Regions from separate parts of the Homo sapiens genome. Here all the other regions are linked to region 3. The links come from fine-mapping of genetic effects on gene expression. A gene starts in region 3. Each other region holds a variant in brackets. All regions are shown on one strand. Distances are between the middles of the regions.

Region 1 (4,161 bases), 120 kb before region 3:
GCACATTTACCCACGCTCACGTGCATACCCGCATTCACACCCACATGTGCACTCCCACACGTGCCTTCTCACATTCATGTGCATTTATTCATACGCTCACACGTACACTTACCCAAACTCATGCACACTCACCCACGCACACGTGCACTCACCCTTATGTACACTCACCCACAATCATGTGCATACTCAAAACCCACGTGCACTTACCGACACTCACACTCAAATGTGCACTCACCCACACGTGCGCTCATACTCACATGTGCACACCTACCCACACTCGTGCATACTCATCCACATTCACACTCACATATACACTCACCCACTCAAATGTGCCCTCACCCACACGTGCACTCATTCATACTCACATGTGCACACCTACCCACACTCGTACATACCCACATTCACACCCACATATGCTCACCCACACTCAAATGCACTCGCCCACACACGTGCACTCATATATGCACACTCAGCCACTCATGTGCACTCACGTATGCACTCACCCACTCGTGCACTCATGTGCACATTTACCCACATGTGCATGCTCACCCACTCAAATGTGCACTCACCCACACATTTACACGTGTGCTTCTTCACACACGTGCACACACCCACACACATGCATACTCACCCAGGTGCACTCACCCACTCACGTATGCACTCACACGTGTGCACACGTGGACACACCCACTCACATCATTCATACTTGCATGTGCACACACAGATATACTAGCACACACTTGTGTGCACACATGCTCACCCATACTCGTGCTCATGCTTGCACAATATACTCACCTGTACACACTCACCTTGCACACAGTCTTGCACACTAACACATGCTCATACAAAGTCATGGCCTGCTCCTGTAAAGACCTAATAGTCCCCTCTCTGTCCTCGATCTGGGCCCGCGGGACCCCCTTCCTTAGTCCCCCTGCCTCTTCTTGCCCTGATGACCTTTCTGACCAGCCTCCCTCCCTCCTGGCCTGCATCCCACTAAGGGGTGACATGCTCAGTATCTGTGTGATAAGGTGAAGGTGGGGAGAGGGCTGAATTGGGGGACAGAGCATGGAAGCGCCTGGATAAGACAGGGAGAAGGTGGGGGCCGGGGATGGTCACGGCAGGAAAACGCGACAGCCCTCGGATGGCACGTCCCAGAGCAGCGGATACACGGGTGGGTGAGAGATGCTGGGTCCATGGCTCCGCCTAAACCCGGCCCTCCCATCATCTACTCTGTGCTTCAGTTTCCTCATCTGTGAAACAGCAACAGCACCTCCTCCTCCAGGAGCTAACATGAGGATCACGTGGGGGACACACATGAGCCTGGCACAAGACAGGACATCAGCCAGTACACTTCAGCCACCACCACCCTCCCTGCCGAGGTGCTGGGGGGGTAGAGGCGGGAAAGGCCAGGAGCCCAGAGAGGGGAGGGAGGCAGCCGTGGCACAGTGCATCTCAGAGCCCCAGCAGTGAGGGGTTGGGTGGGGTGGGAAGGATGGGGGTGAGACAGAGGCTGCTGGAGGACAGTGGCTATGATGCCAGACAGGAAGCAACCTCAGCCGGGCGTGAAACTGAGGGCTGCTCCAGCCCTGGGGCGACTTTCCATAACAGGGTTCTGTAACACAAAGGCCCAGGGTGGGGCGGCGCTTGCCTCCGAGAATCACCACGTTTCCATAGCAGGTGACTTTCTACCACCTGACCAGGCC[T/C]GTGTTTGGGAACGGAAACCAAGTGACTTATCTGTCACATCACATAGCAGCATCGGGGCAGCCCCCACCTGCCACAGCGCCTGCAAGCAGGGCCCTGCACCACCTTTCTGGCAGAGCTCGCTAGCCACCTGAAGACCCCTCTATCGGCTTCTATGCCCCCATCACTTGGGCTCAAGGAGGCAGGAACATCCTGAGTCCGAGATGCAGGGTAAGTAAAGGCAGTGGCCGCCGACTTCACCAACTGATGGGAGCACGTGCAGACTGCCTTAGCAGAGGCCCCACTAGTGGATTTGACAGAACACCTGCTGGGGCTGGAGAAGCCAGGGAAGCTCACGAAGGGCGTGACCTTTCACGCAGCCACGGAACACCTGGGGAGCATCCCCATCCCCTCCTCTTAAACACGGAACTTCCTATGAGACAGAATCAAAGCCAACAAGGCCCTGAGGGCAAAATTACCAGCCTGCATGGCCACCTCCTTTATCATAAGGATTTTACATACTTTGCAAGGCTTAATTAACTTTGTAAAAGTTTAGCTTCTTTATCTTACATATTCTGTATATCCAATTATCTTTTTGTTTATTTTTTTTGTTTTATTTTTGAGACAGAGTCTCACTCTGTCGCCCAGGCTAGAGTGCAGTGGCACGGTCTTGGCTCACTGCAACCTCTACCTCCCAGGTTCAAGAGATTCTCCTGCCTCAGCCTCCCGAGTAGCTGAGATTATGGGCACCTGCCACCACGCCCGGCTAATTTTTTTGTATTTTTAGTAGAGATGGGGTTTTGCCAGGTTGGCCAGGCTGGTTTTGAACTCCTGACTTCAAGTGATCTGCCTGCCTCGGCCTCCCAAAGTGCTAGGATTACAGGCGTGAGCCACCGTGCCTGGCCCTCAAATGATTTTTTTAAACAGAATATTTAAAAGAAAAAACCAGGGCCGGGCGCAGTGGCTCACACCTGTAATCGCAGCACTTTGGGAGGCCAAGGGGGGGCGGATCACGAGGTCAGGTGACTGAGACCATCCTGGCCAACACGGTGAAACCCCGTCTCTACTAAAAAAAAATAATAATAATAAAAAATAAATAAATAAATAAATAAAAATTAGCCGGGCATGGTGGTGGGCGCCTGTAGTCCCAGCTACTCAGGAGACTGAGGCAGGAGAATGGTGTGAACCCAGGAGGTGGAGCTTGCAGTGAGCTGAGATCACGCCACTGCACTCCAGCCTGGGCGACAGAGCGAGACTCCATCTCAAAAAAAAAAAAAATGGCTCATAGTCCCATGACCCAGATAACTGCTATATTGTTTTTTTAAATACAAAGAACTCAAGTGCATGTAAGAAGGCACAGAAGGGCATAAAAGGAACACGAAATCCACCTCACTTTGCATTCTTCTTCCCATTGGTATCCACCTTTGCTATAAGGGCCACGATGATGCCTCCTGCACTGTACGTCTGGCCTCTGCAATGCCACCTCCTGGCTCTTGCCACCAATGGTCCATGTCTCTACCTAGAGGCTGGGCTTGGCCACATGACCTGGGCAACAGGACATCAGGGCACAAGGACACGAGATAAGGCCTGGAAAGCACCGTGCACTGGGACTCGCCCTCTCTGGCTGCTAGGAACCCCCTGCCACCAAGTGAACGGCCAGGGTGGCCTGCTGGAAGATGAGAGGCCCCAGCTGCCATGGCTAACGGCCAGGTCATATGAGTGAGGCCTTCACACAGCCCTGGCTGAATCGCATAGACCAGAAGAACCAGCAGCCAAACCACTGCATCACCAGGAATAATAAATATCTGATCAAGACTCCATGCTGGCCAGGCGCGGTGGCTCACGCCTGTAATCCCAGCACTTTGGGAGGCCGAGGGGGGCAGATCACCTGAGGTCAGGAGTTCAAGACCAGCCTCAACATGGAGAAACCCCGTCTCTACTAAAAATACAAAATTAGCCGGGCGTGGTGGTGCAGGCCTGTAATCCCACCTACTCGGGAGGCTGAGGCAGGAGAATTGCTTGAACCTGGGAGGCAGAGGTTGCGGTGAGCCGAGATCGCGCCTTTACACTCCAGCCTGGGCAACAGGAGCGAAACTTCGTCTCAGAAAAAAAAAAAAAAAAAGACTCCATGCTTTAGGCAGTTTATGACCTTGAAAAAGCTATCCGATGAGCACTATTAACAAGTATGGGCCGGGTGCGGTGGCTCACGCCTATAATCCAGCACTTTGGGAGGCTGAGGCAGTTGGATCACCTGAGGTCAGGAGTTCGAGACCAGCCTGGCCAACATGGTGAAATCCCATCTCTACTAAAAATACCAAAATTAGCCAGGCGTGGTGGTGGTGCGCACCTGTAATCCCAGCTACTTGGGAGGCTGAGGGCAGGAGAATGGCTTGAACTCAGGAGGCGGAGGTTGCAGTGAGCCGAGATTGTGCCAGCCTGGGTGACAGAGTGAGACTGCATCTCAAAACAAACAAAGAAAAA
Region 2 (4,161 bases), 54 kb before region 3:
GCCACAGGAAATATAAGCTCTAAAACTCTCCTGTAATATCTCTGACCCAATTTAGCACCACTTTTTTCCGTTTCATTTTTTAGGACTAAAACATAAAAGAACCAGTGTCCAGAGGCAAGTGACATATGCTTTACACTTACGACCATCCTTCATTTCTTCATTCATAAACTTTGCTTAAAAGACTAAAATTCCGGCCGGGTCCGGTGGCTCACGCCTGTAATCCCAGCACTTTGGGAGGCTGAGGCGGGTGGATCACAAGGTCAGGAGTTTGAGACCAGTCTGACCAACATGGTGAAACCCTGTCTCTACTAAAAATACAAAAATTACTTGGGCATGGTGGTGCATGCCTGTAGTCCCAGCTACTCAGGAGGCTGAGGCAGAAAAATGGCTTGAACCTGGGAGGTGGAGGTTGCAGTGAGCTGAGATCGTGCCACTGCACTCCAGCCTTCCAGCCTGCGCGAAAGAACAAGACCATGTCTCAAAAAAAAAAAAGACTAAAATTCCCAATTCCTTATAAAAAATACATTATTGCCCTCAGCCCCGATGGCCACTGGCAAAGACTTTTATTTCCCAATGGATGAGAGAGCCTCCTTCACCTTCTCGGTCATAGTTGGGAGCAGGTGCATGTGGTCATCCACACACTTGGTCACACCACCTTCCAGCTTCTGCTTCAACTGAAGCTCCTTACTCCCAGCATCTATTGAATCTTTGGCTTTGTCGTTGCAATGCGTGGTGCACCGGACCAGGTGGTCCTGGAACTTCTCCAGCTCACTGGTGATCAAAGCCTGGGCTTAAGCCAGAGGCACATGGTGGCACTCGATGCACTGGTGCACCTGCTCCGTGGAGGCCTGACTGTCCTCACAACAGCTGGTGCTGCACCAGAACATGAGACAATGCATCTTCCAGATGTTCTCTCTCTCCAGACTCTTCACCATGGAGTCCACCACCTCCTGCACCCGCAGCTGCTGCAGCTCCCCAGTGGCAACCCTGTGCTGCCCCAGTTATTTGAACTTTTCTAAATCTTTTTTTTTTTTTTGAAACAGAGTCTCACTCTGTTGCCCATGCAGTGGCGTGATCTCAGCTCACTGCAACCTCTGCCTCCCGGGTTCAAGAGATTCTCCTGCCTCAGCCTCCCGAGTAGCTGGGATTACAGGCATGTGCCACCAAGCCTGGCTAATTTTTGTATTTTTAGTAGAGATGGGGTTTCGCCATGTTGGACAGGCTGGTCTCGAACTCCTGAGCTCAGGTGATCCACCAGCCTCAGCCTCCCAAAGTGCTGGGATCACAGACATGAGCTACTGCACCCGGCTGACTTTTATAAATCTTGGCCATGGCCATGTGTGGTAGACAAAATAATGTCTCACCCTCACTTCCCAAGAAGAGCTGCATGTCTCAATCCCCAGAAGCTGTGACTGCGTTATGCCACATGGCACAGGGGCACGGCCGCTCACCAGCAACCTTAACCCACGAGAGTATCCTGGAGGATCTGGGTGGCCACAGGATCCTTAAAAGCAGAGGAGGGAGGAAGAGTGGGAGAAAGAGCTTATGGGGACAGAGGAAGTCAGGGGATTCTATGCTGCTGGCCCTGAAGACAGAGGAAGGGCCATCAGCCAGAGCAGAATCTGTTCTGCCTCCCTGGGTAGCTGGAGAGGCAATACCAGATAATGAGAGCAAAGACCTGTGTAGCTCTTGCAATCCTCAGGGGACTCTAGGAGGCAGAAAATCCAATCACCCAGTTTTACTGATGAGGAAACCAAAGCACATAGAGGTTAAGTGACTTGCCCAAGGTCACAGAGGAAGTGGGTGGCAGAGTGGGATTGCATATGCCTGTAAACTCAGCTACTCGAAAGGCTGAGGCACGAGACTCACTTGAACCCAGGAGGCAAAGGTTGCAGTGAGCTGAGCTTGTGCACTGTACTCCAGCCTGGGTGAAAGAACAAAATCCCGCCTCAAAAAAAAAAGAAAATTATCTACAGGGTCCTTCATAGGGAACTCACAAGATGATTCTCTAATCTCCACAGAAGACCAATAGGTCAAGAATAGCCAAGGCATCCCTGGAGAACAGGGGAGGGGAACAAGCTCTATCTGATGTCAAGATTTATAGCCTGTAGACAAGGGAGTGCTGGCATGGAGCAGACCAACAGACTGATGGACAGAAGATGGAGCCCAGAAACAGGTCCACACGCACACACAACAGAGCTGGCAAATGGGAAAGAGGAGCATTCCCACACATGGTCCCAAGCCACTCAGCTGTCTACATAACGGACAAAGTGAAACTGGATCCCTACCTCACACCAAGCACAAACATCAATTCCAGGTGAACTAAGGACTTAAGCAGGAAAGACAAAGCCTATTTTAGCAAGGATCATTCAAAATCATGTTTATGATCTTGAGATAGGTAAGCAATTCTTAAACATGACACACAACACACTATCGTAAAGGGGAAAAAGTATGATTTTGATTACATTAAAAACAAGGACTTTAGAAAGAACCTTATTAATAAATTAATGATGAGACATTAATTAACATAAGCCACAAACTGTGAGACCCGCCTCACTGGGTGTCTAGGGCGC[A/G]GTCCTCACAGTTGAGCACACCCTCTTTATGGAAACATGCTATTCCTGACTTTTTTTTTTTTTTTTTTTTTTTTGAGACAGCGTCTCGCTCTGTCACCCAGGCTGGAGTGCAGTGGCAGCCCACAGGTTTTCCATTCAAGGTGCTTTCCCTGACAATCCCACTCTGCCACCCACTTCCTCTGTGAACTTGGGCAAGTCACTTAACCTCTATGTGCTTTGGTTTCCTCATCAGTAAAACCGGGTGATTGGATTTCCTGCCTCCTGGAGTCCCCTGAGGATTGCAAGAGCTACGTAAGTCTTTGCTCCCATTATCTGCTATTGCCTCTCCAACCACCCAGGGAGGCAGAGCAGATTCTGCTACCCCAGTGACAAGGGATGTGGGGCCCAGAAAGGCTCAGGAACTGTGCCCAGGACACACAGCTGTCTGTTGGGGATGCAGGTCGCCATCTTCCTGCCAAGGTAGAGTGAGGCCTGCAGTCTCCACGTGTCTACTCAGCTCTTTCACACCAACACTTTCAGGAGAGAAAAATAATTATTAACTGCAGAGGCTTAATGAGGATATGGAGCTGCAAGGCTTTCTAATACCAATAATTTGTACCTATTTAAGAGCAAAGGTGTAACAACAAAGGCACTGGCACCAACAGGCTCAGAAGCCACATCCCTTGCCTCCAGGTAAAGGAGCACAACTGTCAATTTCACGGAGCACAGAACATTCCCAGGCTCCCACGGGCTCCCACGCTCTGCCCTGGCTCTCAGACTCACCTGTAGGGAGGAGCGCCCCAGGCCTTCCGCCCAGAAATCCAAGGGTACAGGGCAAGAGAAGGGGAGCTGCTGGGGAGAGCCGTTACGACGGTGGGGACGGGTCCGAGGTCTGAACTGGGCACCAGTAAACCTGGCATCCACAGGGCCCACCAGCCCCAGCTGCTCAGTCCCAAGCAAGACCGCTGGGAGGGTCCTGCAGGGGACAGAGTCCCTCCTTCCACCAGCCCAGCCCAGCCCATGGTGGCAGCTGCCTCGGGCCCAGCCCTCCTCAGAAATGCAGGCTGCAGCATCTGCCAGGAACTTGGAGGAGCCACCCCTCCTAGGCCTGAAATGTGTCCCCACTCAGGGGCCCTGAAATCCCTTCCAGAATAATTTCACAGAGACCTCTTTTGAAATGCAAATACCAGGGAGAGGCTATATTAAGCCACTGACCCCTGATAGGGTTAGTGCCTCAAGTTAGAGCTGGGGGCAGCCCGGGACAGCCTGGCAAGGGGCAGCTGCGCTCACATACCACGAGAGCTACCTGGCCCACTCACTGCAGCACCTGTTTTGGCTGGGCATGGGGGTTCTGCCCCAGAGACCCTGTGGCCATCAGAGATGCTGGAGTGAGCGCTCACAGGGACCCCGCCCAGGTGCTGGGGAGGTCCGGCTGCTGCCTGAGGTCTCCAAACACTACCGAAGCCCACCTCCAGGAACAAGGATATCATCCTTGTTACTTCCAGGGACGCCTCCCTCCAATTTAGTGAATGGCGAGCAAATCATTTTCTTTGGGGGAAAAGATCAAATATTGGCCCAGACGTCTATTAATTTGCAACTTGCATTGAAA
Region 3 (4,161 bases):
TTCACGTCCAGCACCGTGATGGACACGCTGGTGGAGGAGCTCATGGGGGGCGAGCCGTGGTCCACCGCCTCCACCCCGAAGCTGTAGTGCTCCACCTCCTCGCGGTCCAGCTCGGCACACACTGTGATCCAACCGGAGCTGTTGTGGATCTGGAAGGGGAAGTCAGGGGTGGGGGCAGGATTCTTAGGCCCAGCGCTGCCGCCCCCCAGAAAGGTGGAGGCCGTGTCCACCAGGCGATAGTGCAGCCGGGCGTTCTCTCCAGAGTCCGCGTCCACCGCCTGAATGTGCACCACGGGGTAGCCCAGGGGCACATTCTCCAGCACCGTGGCCTGGAAGGGGCTGCTCACAAAGATAGGCTCGTTGTCGTTGACATCCAGCACCTGCACAGACACCACCCCTGAAGAATTGATGAGCGGGGGCCGGCCCCCATCCTGGGCCTTAATGCTCAGCGAGTATTTCTGGACATCCTCGAAATCCAAGGGGTTGATCACATCCAGGATCCCGCTCAGCGAGTGCAGGTAGAACTGGCCGGCCACGTTCCCGCTGAGGATGCTGTAGTGAATGGCCGCGTTCTGGCCCTGGTCCCGGTCCGTGGCCTGCACTCGCAGCACAGCCGTGTTGAGCCCCACGTCCTCGGGCACCTGGACCACGTAGTTCTGCTCGCTGAACTGGGGGTAGTTGTCGTTCTCGTCCTCCACCTCGATGTACACGGTGGCCGTGGCACTGAGCGGGCCCGGATTGCGCCCCTGGTCGTTGGCCTCCACCAGGAGCTGGTACTCGGCCGCCTCCTCCCGGTCCAGCACCGCCCGTGTGCTCACCACGCCAGAGCTCTCGTTGAGCTGGAAGACGTCCCACGCGCCCCCCAACACGCGGTAACGCAAGTTGGCGTTGATGGGCGAGTCGCGGTCGCTGGCGCGGATGGTCAGCACCTCGTAGCCCACCTCCAGGTTCTCCCGCACGCGCTCGCGGTACTCCGACTGCTCGAAGACCGGGCTGTGGTCGTTGGTGTCTTTGACCAAGACAGTGATGTAGGTGGTGGCCGAGCGCGGCGGCGTACTGTAGTCCACGGCTTTCACCCTGAGGACGTGCGTCTCCTTGGTCTCGCGGTCCAGTACGCTGTCCGTGCTCACGGCGCCCGTGGCAGAGTCGATTCGGAAGTAGCCCCGGGAGCGCTCGTCGAACAGCCCCTCCATGTAATAGCTCACGCGCTCCTCCTCGCCCTCGATGGTGTAGTGCGCGTGCAGCTGGAGGATGAGGGTGCCCGCCGGTTCGTTCTCAAACAACGCCACCTGGTAGTTGGGCATCGGAAACTTCAGGCTCCCTCTGCCGCTCGTGCCCCGCCGGGCCCGTCGCGCCGGCCCCGCCCGGGCTTCGGGCAAGTTCGGCGGCAGGGGCGGCGATGGGGATGGCGACGCGGAGGGCGTCCCCGCGGTGGCGGCCTCCAGCGCCAGTCCCACCCGGACGGCGCCAGCCGCGCGCCGCAGGGCGCACAGCAGACGCAGGCGGACCGAGCCGCCCGGCGGCAGGCAGATGGGACGGCCGGGACAGCGGGGCCTGGGGCGCGGCGGGCAGCGGCAGGCGGGTAAGGTGGTCGGAGCTGCGAGCGCCGAATGCTGCGCGGCCGCGCAGCCGCCGGGGACGGGGAAGCAGAGCGCCCCGCAGAGCCGGGCACCGGTTCCGCAGAGCCGGGCACGGGCTCCGCAGCCGGGAAGGTGCGTGCGCGCCCGCAGGCGGCGGCTCAGCGCCGTCGGGGCACTGCGGGCCACCAAGCGGACTTGCAGCGGCAGCGGGCGCCCCGCGCCCGAGACGCGCCGACGTCCTGCCAGCCGCCCATCGCGGCCCACGTCCAGCAGCTCCCGCGGCGCCCGGGGCGTGCAAGCGGCGCCCACCGCGTAGGTACAGCCGGGCCGGAGGGCGAAGGCGCGGGTCCCGCCGGGTACGCGCGGCTCCCAGGCGGCCGCTCGCAGCCCCATCGCCGGCAGGGCGGCGGCGGCGGCCAGGAGCAGCAGCACGGGCAGCACGGGCGGCGGCGGCGGCGCCATGGCCCGGAGCCCGAGCCCGAGCCGGGCGCCCGAACACAATCCATGCACCCGGCGCGCCTCCGCATCCACCCGGCGAGGCCGGGGAGCGGCTCCCGGGCGCCCGGCCCTCGGGGCGGTCCGCGTCCCGCCTCCCCGGGGGCCCTGGCGGGGACTGTGGGGACCACGCGCCCGGCCTCCCCCGCAGCTTCCACTTCGAGAGCACTTTGCGAAAGTTTGCGAAGTTGGTTTCAAGATGGCTCCTCCGCGCGTCCCGGGAGGGCGCCGCGCATCAACCTGCGGCGGCGGCGGCGGCTCCAGGCGGCTCCAGGTGGCTCCGGCGCGGGCTCGGCCGGACGGGCGTGGGAAGCGGGGCGGGCCCGGCGCGGGGCGGGGGCTGAGTTCCCGGAGCGGGCTGGGCAGCTCCGCGCCGCGCAGACCCCGGCGGCCGGCTGCTGCCTGGGCGGTGCGCTTGGCCCGCGCCCACTCCGCCCGCGCTCTCCCCGCCCCCGGCCCGGCCCCGCCCCGCCCCCGGCCCAGCGGCGTATTGTTCGGCCCCGGGGGGAGCCGGCTCGGAGGTGCGCGCCGAGAGGATCGCTATGGAGACGCGAGGGCGCGGCCGGGACGGGGACTGGGGCCCTACTCCCCGGAGGCCTCCCCACCCAGCCTCCCGGTGGGGCGGGGCCGAGGCAACAGGGCCGGGAAAGGTGGGGCTGGGGCCCCCGGTGGCCGCTACCCGTGGGGCGGTGGCTCCGCACCTCGGGCTCGGGGCCGCGGCTCAGAGCCTGGCTCCCCACCCCGGCAGAACAGATCCACGGAGACCGCCGCCAGGAGTGCCGCGCGGGTAGGACCCGGGGGCGGAGGACTGGGGCCGAGAGGCCGGGGAGCCCCCCCCCACCCATTAAGGACTGCGGAGGCTGTCGAGGAGGGTTACCCATTTTACAGCAAGACGCACGGAGGCTAAAATGCTTCACCCCGACTAAAACTCCCTGGACTTTGAAGCCCAATAGGCAGCTACCGGATCTGCGTCCCACTTGGTTTAAAGCGCAACTTTTAAATGAAAGAAGAAAACCCCGGTTGACATAAGGGATTTGGAGAGGACGGCGGAGGCGCGCTCATCTCCCGCGTGCGGCCCGACCCGAGCGTTCGCGGACGCATCGCGGAATCCCCGAGCGTCCGGCTCCTCCCGAAGCGGGTTGCGGGGAAGGCGGGGGGCTGCGGGTCCTGGAAGCTGCCTGGGGCAAGCAAGCACCCGCAGGGATTTAGAGCTGTGCCACAGCCCCTGCCCAGCCTCCTACGGAGGACAGCGGGGGGCGGGGGGCAGAGACCTTAGAGCTTTCAGAAAAGTGACACACACCCCCGCCTCCTGCGGGGAACCACGGGGGGCCGGGGGCAGCTTTAGGTTTGCGTGACGGGTACACCTGCCTCCGGATGGGGCACAGGGATAAAGGGGGTGGAGGCTTAGGACTTGGCGACCCCCCGCATGGGCGGGGCTTTGGGACTGTGCCACCAGCGGCTGGGAAGGGCGCGCACTCCCTTGGTGGCGCTCGGGGCGCCGGAGTCCAGTGCAGCCCTTAGGCCTCCCAGTGGTCGGGGACGGTAGGTGGGGGTCGCCTCTTCTCTCCTAGAAGGGCTTCTCCTGGGGCCGGTCGGAGCGGTGGGGGTGGGAGTAATGCGCAGTCACCCCTAGAACGGGTCTTTTTGGCAAGGGAGGGTCGGATCCTGCAGCCAAATCTCTGAGCTGAGCTGAGATGAGTCCAGTCTCAACGAGGACCGTGGGCGGCTGTGGAGAACCGGAAGGGTTTCTCCCCCGGAGCGATGTGTCTGTGTGTGTGTCACACGCATACTCAGCCAACTTCGCTCAAAGCTGCTGAAACAGTGTCTTTGTGCTGAAGCCCAATGTGAGCATTTTCTTCCCAGTAGCAAGGATTTGAACACGTTATATTGATCTAAAAGGTGGAGTTGCTTTGGAACCTTTTAATTCGAGGTTTCCACTGGAGAGTCCTGTTGGGAAATGTGTGTGTGGAGGGAGGGGAGGAAGGAGAAAAGTCCGTCTCCTTAATGTGAGCGGTCCAGGACCTCCCCACCCGCCATATACCCTTCCACTGGGATTTTTCCGGGAAGGATGAAAGGACAGGAGTTC
Region 4 (4,161 bases), 140 kb before region 3:
GCCTCCGAGGTGCTGGCCGCTGCTGTGCATGAGTCTCCCTACCTGTTCCTGACAGGGCTGCACCTGCGCAGTCACCTGAAGGCCCACCTGCCTGCAACGGCCCCGCCCGAGTGTCCTGCGGGCTCCTGCAATCCCCCCTGGCTAACCAAGTTCCCTCCACCCAGCTGCCAGCCTCTAGCATTCACTCACTTGGCGAGCAAGTATTAAGGACTGTGTACAAATCAGGGTCATAAAGACAACCAGGCCAGAGATAGAGTCTGGCGTTTATGGATGTGTGTGTGCAGCGTGGGGGCCCCAGAACCTTCATCCCCCTGCAGCAGTGGTGACTGTGGCGCCGGGCATGGAGATGCTGGATCAGCCTCTTGGCAACTCCCCCTGCTCCAAGCTGTGCTCCATGCGGCAGGTGGGGGTTCCCTAAGACCAGGTCCTGCCACTTTAGTGCTGGGCCCCCACGGCCTCCACACAGCCGAATTCTGTTCCTGGCTTGCGGGCCCACCTCTGTCCCCACCCAGGCCTCTCTAGATCAGCCTCATCCCCTTACTCCTCTCCAGCTTGGCTCTGTTGCTTTCGCTCCCAGAATGCCCTCCCGCTTCAGCCACACTGGCTCCCACCTCCCTCTCCACTCCCAGGGCACCTCCGCGGCGCTCTCCCTGGCATCACATCTTGCTGATATCCAAGAATGATGTGGTGCCATCTTCTCGTGAGGTCACCAGCTCCAGGGCACAGGCTGCTTCCCACTCATGGGGTCACAGCCGGGATCACAGCACCTGCTCTAGGCTCGGGAGGACAAAGAACGGAGCATAGCAGGTGTCCCTGCACCTGATGGCCACCAGCAGCTGAGGACAATGAGCCACAGGGGCATCACCTCCACGGCGGCCTGGAACCTTGGTTTATGAAGAACCCAGCAGCTCCACCTTGGACAAAGTGACGCTTGTGATGACTACGCACCTGTACCCAGCGATCCCCGTGCAAAGGGTACAGAGCCCAGAGCCCAGAGAGCACGCTGCTGCCTGTCCTAACCACACTAGGATCTCCGCACACATCAGAAATGACTTCAAGCCCAGCGACTCGACAGAGAAAGCATTCTCTGTAAACCACATGCGTCTCCCTGCATCTCATGGGGCCTGTTTGCTCTGGGCCCAGTGAGGACTCCAGGTGAGTCATTTGCATGTTTCAGGTGTGGACACATGATCCAATGGGGTTAGTTTGAGACGTCCAAATTGATTCTCATTGCCCAAGCGTGGTGGCTCACACCCGTAATCCCAGCACTTTGGGAGGCTGAGGCAGGTGGATCACTTGAGGTCAGGAGTTCGAGACCAGCCTGACCAATATGGTGAAACTCCATTTCTACTAAAAATACAAAATATTAGCTGGGCATGGTGGCGGGCACCTGTAGGACCAGCTACTCGGGAGGCCGAGGCAGGAGAATCACTTGAGCCCAGGAGGCAGAGGTTGCAAGGAGCCAAGATCGCGCCATTGCACTCCAGCCTGGGTGACAGAGCAAGACTCTGTCTCAAAAAAATAAAAATAAAATAAAAATTAAAAAAAATTTGATTTTCACTTAATTCATGCCAAATTAAAAAAAAATATGTCCCTGTTACCCAGAATCACACATATCTTTGGGTCAAAATAAGAAAGAGAAGACACTGAGTCGAGGGAACACAGCCACATGGACTCTGAAGGTGCAGGGAGGCACCAGGGGCTGCTCTTACTTGTTCTCACAGTACGGCCCGTAGTGACTGGGCCCACACTCGCACACGTAGCCCTGCGGGGAGCCGGGGGAGCGCACGCAGGCCCCCATGTTCTCGCAGGGGTTCAGGTGACAGGCATCCACACAGTTTATTCCAAGGTACCCTGCAAGGACAGAGCCAGCATTACCTCCACCCACAATCCACGAGA[C/A]CTTCCACGTTAAAATATCTGGAGCAACCTGTCCCCTCCAGAAGATCTGACTTTCCCTGGTACTCAGCAGAGGGAAGAGGAAGAGTGCCACAGAGTCCCCGAAAACACAGCGTTAGGCGGGTTAGACTTAGTGATGCAGAGAGGAAGGCCTTCCCGGGCTGCCCCAAGGAGGGTGAGAGCCTTGGAACACGGGGCCCAGGCTGCCCCAGGACACATGGGGAATGGCCACCAGCAGAAGATGACTTAAGCACCTCAAAACTCTGAGGCCACCCTGAATGGAGGATTTTCTTAATATGCACTTTTCACTAATTCTTTTATTTATTTATTTATTGAGAAGAGTCTTGCTCTGTTGCCCAGGCTGAGGTGCAGTGGCATGATCTCAGCTCACTGGAACCTTTGCCTAAGAAGCTCAAGTGATCCTCCCACCTCAGCCTCCCACGTAGCTAGGACTACAGATGCGTGCCACCATGCCTGGCTAATTTTTGCTTTTTTTTTTTTTTTTTTTTTTTTCGTAGAGATGGGGTTTCACCATGTTGCCTGGCTGGTCTTGAACTCCTGGCTTCAAGTGATCCACCCACCTCGGCCTCCCAAAGTGCTGGGATTACAGGTATGAGCCACTGCACCCGGCCTTACTTTTCACTGTTTCTTTGCTGATCACCCCATGTGCTGAGGAGAGCGCCTGGGGCACTCTGTGCCTTGAGTAAGGAAGAGGCTCAGAGTCTCTCTCTAGGAGGGGCCCGCTTGTTATAAAATAAAGCTCAGGGCTCCACGGAACCACAGGGAGTTGGCTGGGGACGCTAATGTCTAAACTGAGCCCCCCTCCTGTGTTTCAGCCATAAGAGACCTCCCTGTCACTGAAGGGCCCCGGGAGGGCGGTCCCACCTTTGTCACAGACGCAGCTGTAGTCCTCCCAGGCGTCGTGGCAGCGGCTATTGGGGGGACAGGGGCTCGAGGTACAGGGGTCGTCCACATCACAGCCGTCCTTCACCCTGACCTTGAGTGCGTTGTTCATGTTCAGGGTGGCGACGTTGGTGGGCGTCCCCCCCATCCTCACTCCCTGCATTAAGTAAACGGCACTGGGGCTACAGGAGCCCGGAAAGGTATGTAGGGGTTAAGGGAACCCTGAGACCTCTCTGGTCCCTTGCGAGGCATTCATCTGTGATGCCTCATTTATCTACAGAGCTGGGGCGGGCAGGGTTGTTCCTCTTGCCCCACGGCCTGCTGGCCGGAGTGCAGTGGAGGGCTGGGTGAGGAGCTCAGAGGGCACGCCAGCCTGAGCTCCTGGGGTGCGCGGTGGGGGCGTGAGGAGTGGATGTCCCTGCCGAGGGGGCTGAGAGCTGAACGACTCAGAGCAGCTCCCTCGGCCGTAGCTGGAACCCCTGGCTCCAGGGGACAGGCACGGGGCCCACTTGGGTGACGTCTGTGGTTGGACTGGGTGGGGGTGGCGGCAAGGGGCTCGATTCAGGACACTTCACAAAGGCAGAGGGGCAGGTGGCTGGCATGGCGGTGGGGAGCTGTGGGGGCCAGGGACGGCCCGGATGCCAAGGGGAACCGCAGGGGAGAATGGGTCTGAAGAGGAAACAGGAGCTGTTAAAGTGGGGATGCCTGTCAGACAAATTCTTCACTCGTTGAAAGCTAACAGGTTGACCAACGGAACCACCTATGGTGCTGCCAGCCTCGGAGCTGCCTGTGAGGGGCAGGCCTCCCCCCGCCCCCCACAACCCCCACGCACCTGCATGCAGCCTCGGAATCCACGGCGCACGGAGACCTTGTCTTCAGAGGCGCCTCCGACCACCACGCTCCTTACCGTCAGCCCGGGAAGCATGCCCCCGATATCTGCCTTGTTCTGTGCGGAGAGAGGGGCCGGGGATCTGGGGGCTGCATCCACCATCCTAGAAACGTCTCTCAGATGGGAAGGATACACTGGAAGTCTAAACAGTCACTTCAACAAACTCCGCAGAGCCTGAGGACATCTGGGCCTCCAAAGAGAGAGCTGGGCCCAGCTGGACAGCGAGGCTGGCTGTGATGACCAGGGCGAGGGGACCAGGCCAGAGGATGGGTGTCCATGCCCCAGCCTAGCTGAGGCGGCCAGTGGGGTCAACGTGGGCAACTGTCCCGCCTCCGTCAAGGGCACAACACTAAACCAGCCACGCTGTGACAGAGAGCTTGGCGAGTCAGGAAGACTGCAGTGAACGGAAATCCGCTCACTCATTAACACTGTGGGAACCCAAGAGGGTCTCGGCTGAGATCCAGTCCCAGAAA

Evidence for each region. PIP is the estimated chance that this variant, and not a neighbour inherited with it, causes the effect.
Region 1: its variant is the best candidate, but not a certain one, in a credible set for the expression of CELSR1 in whole blood (INTERVAL, PIP 0.88).
Region 2: its variant is the best candidate, but not a certain one, in a credible set for the expression of CELSR1 in unexposed skin (GTEx, PIP 0.62).
Region 4: its variant is the best candidate, but not a certain one, in a credible set for the expression of CELSR1 in lung (GTEx, PIP 0.75).

Annotation. Positions count from the first base shown.
Region 1 is chr22:46,419,823-46,423,983 of GRCh38, forward strand. All of the region lies in intron 5 of CELSR1 (cadherin EGF LAG seven-pass G-type receptor 1), which reads right to left. Among named protein-coding and RNA genes, the nearest start is that of TRMU, 86 kb to the left of the region's middle. RefSeq lists a silencer at 1,452-1,501. The variant T/C (reference allele first, on the strand shown) is at 1,704.
Region 2 is chr22:46,480,763-46,484,923 of GRCh38, forward strand. All of the region lies in intron 1 of CELSR1 (cadherin EGF LAG seven-pass G-type receptor 1), which reads right to left. It also overlaps the pseudogene FAM136EP. Among named protein-coding and RNA genes, the nearest start is that of CELSR1, 55 kb to the right of the region's middle. The variant A/G (reference allele first, on the strand shown) is at 2,574.
Region 3 is chr22:46,535,129-46,539,289 of GRCh38, forward strand. CELSR1 (cadherin EGF LAG seven-pass G-type receptor 1) reads right to left here and starts at 2,492. Exons shown (of 35, transcript NM_001378328.1): 1 at 1-2,492. The coding sequence starts at 2,042.
Region 4 is chr22:46,394,893-46,399,053 of GRCh38, forward strand. It overlaps CELSR1 (cadherin EGF LAG seven-pass G-type receptor 1), which reads right to left. Exons shown (of 35, transcript NM_001378328.1): 11 at 3,632-3,745; 12 at 2,782-2,956; 13 at 1,713-1,854. Among named protein-coding and RNA genes, the nearest start is that of TRMU, 61 kb to the left of the region's middle. The variant C/A (reference allele first, on the strand shown) is at 1,900.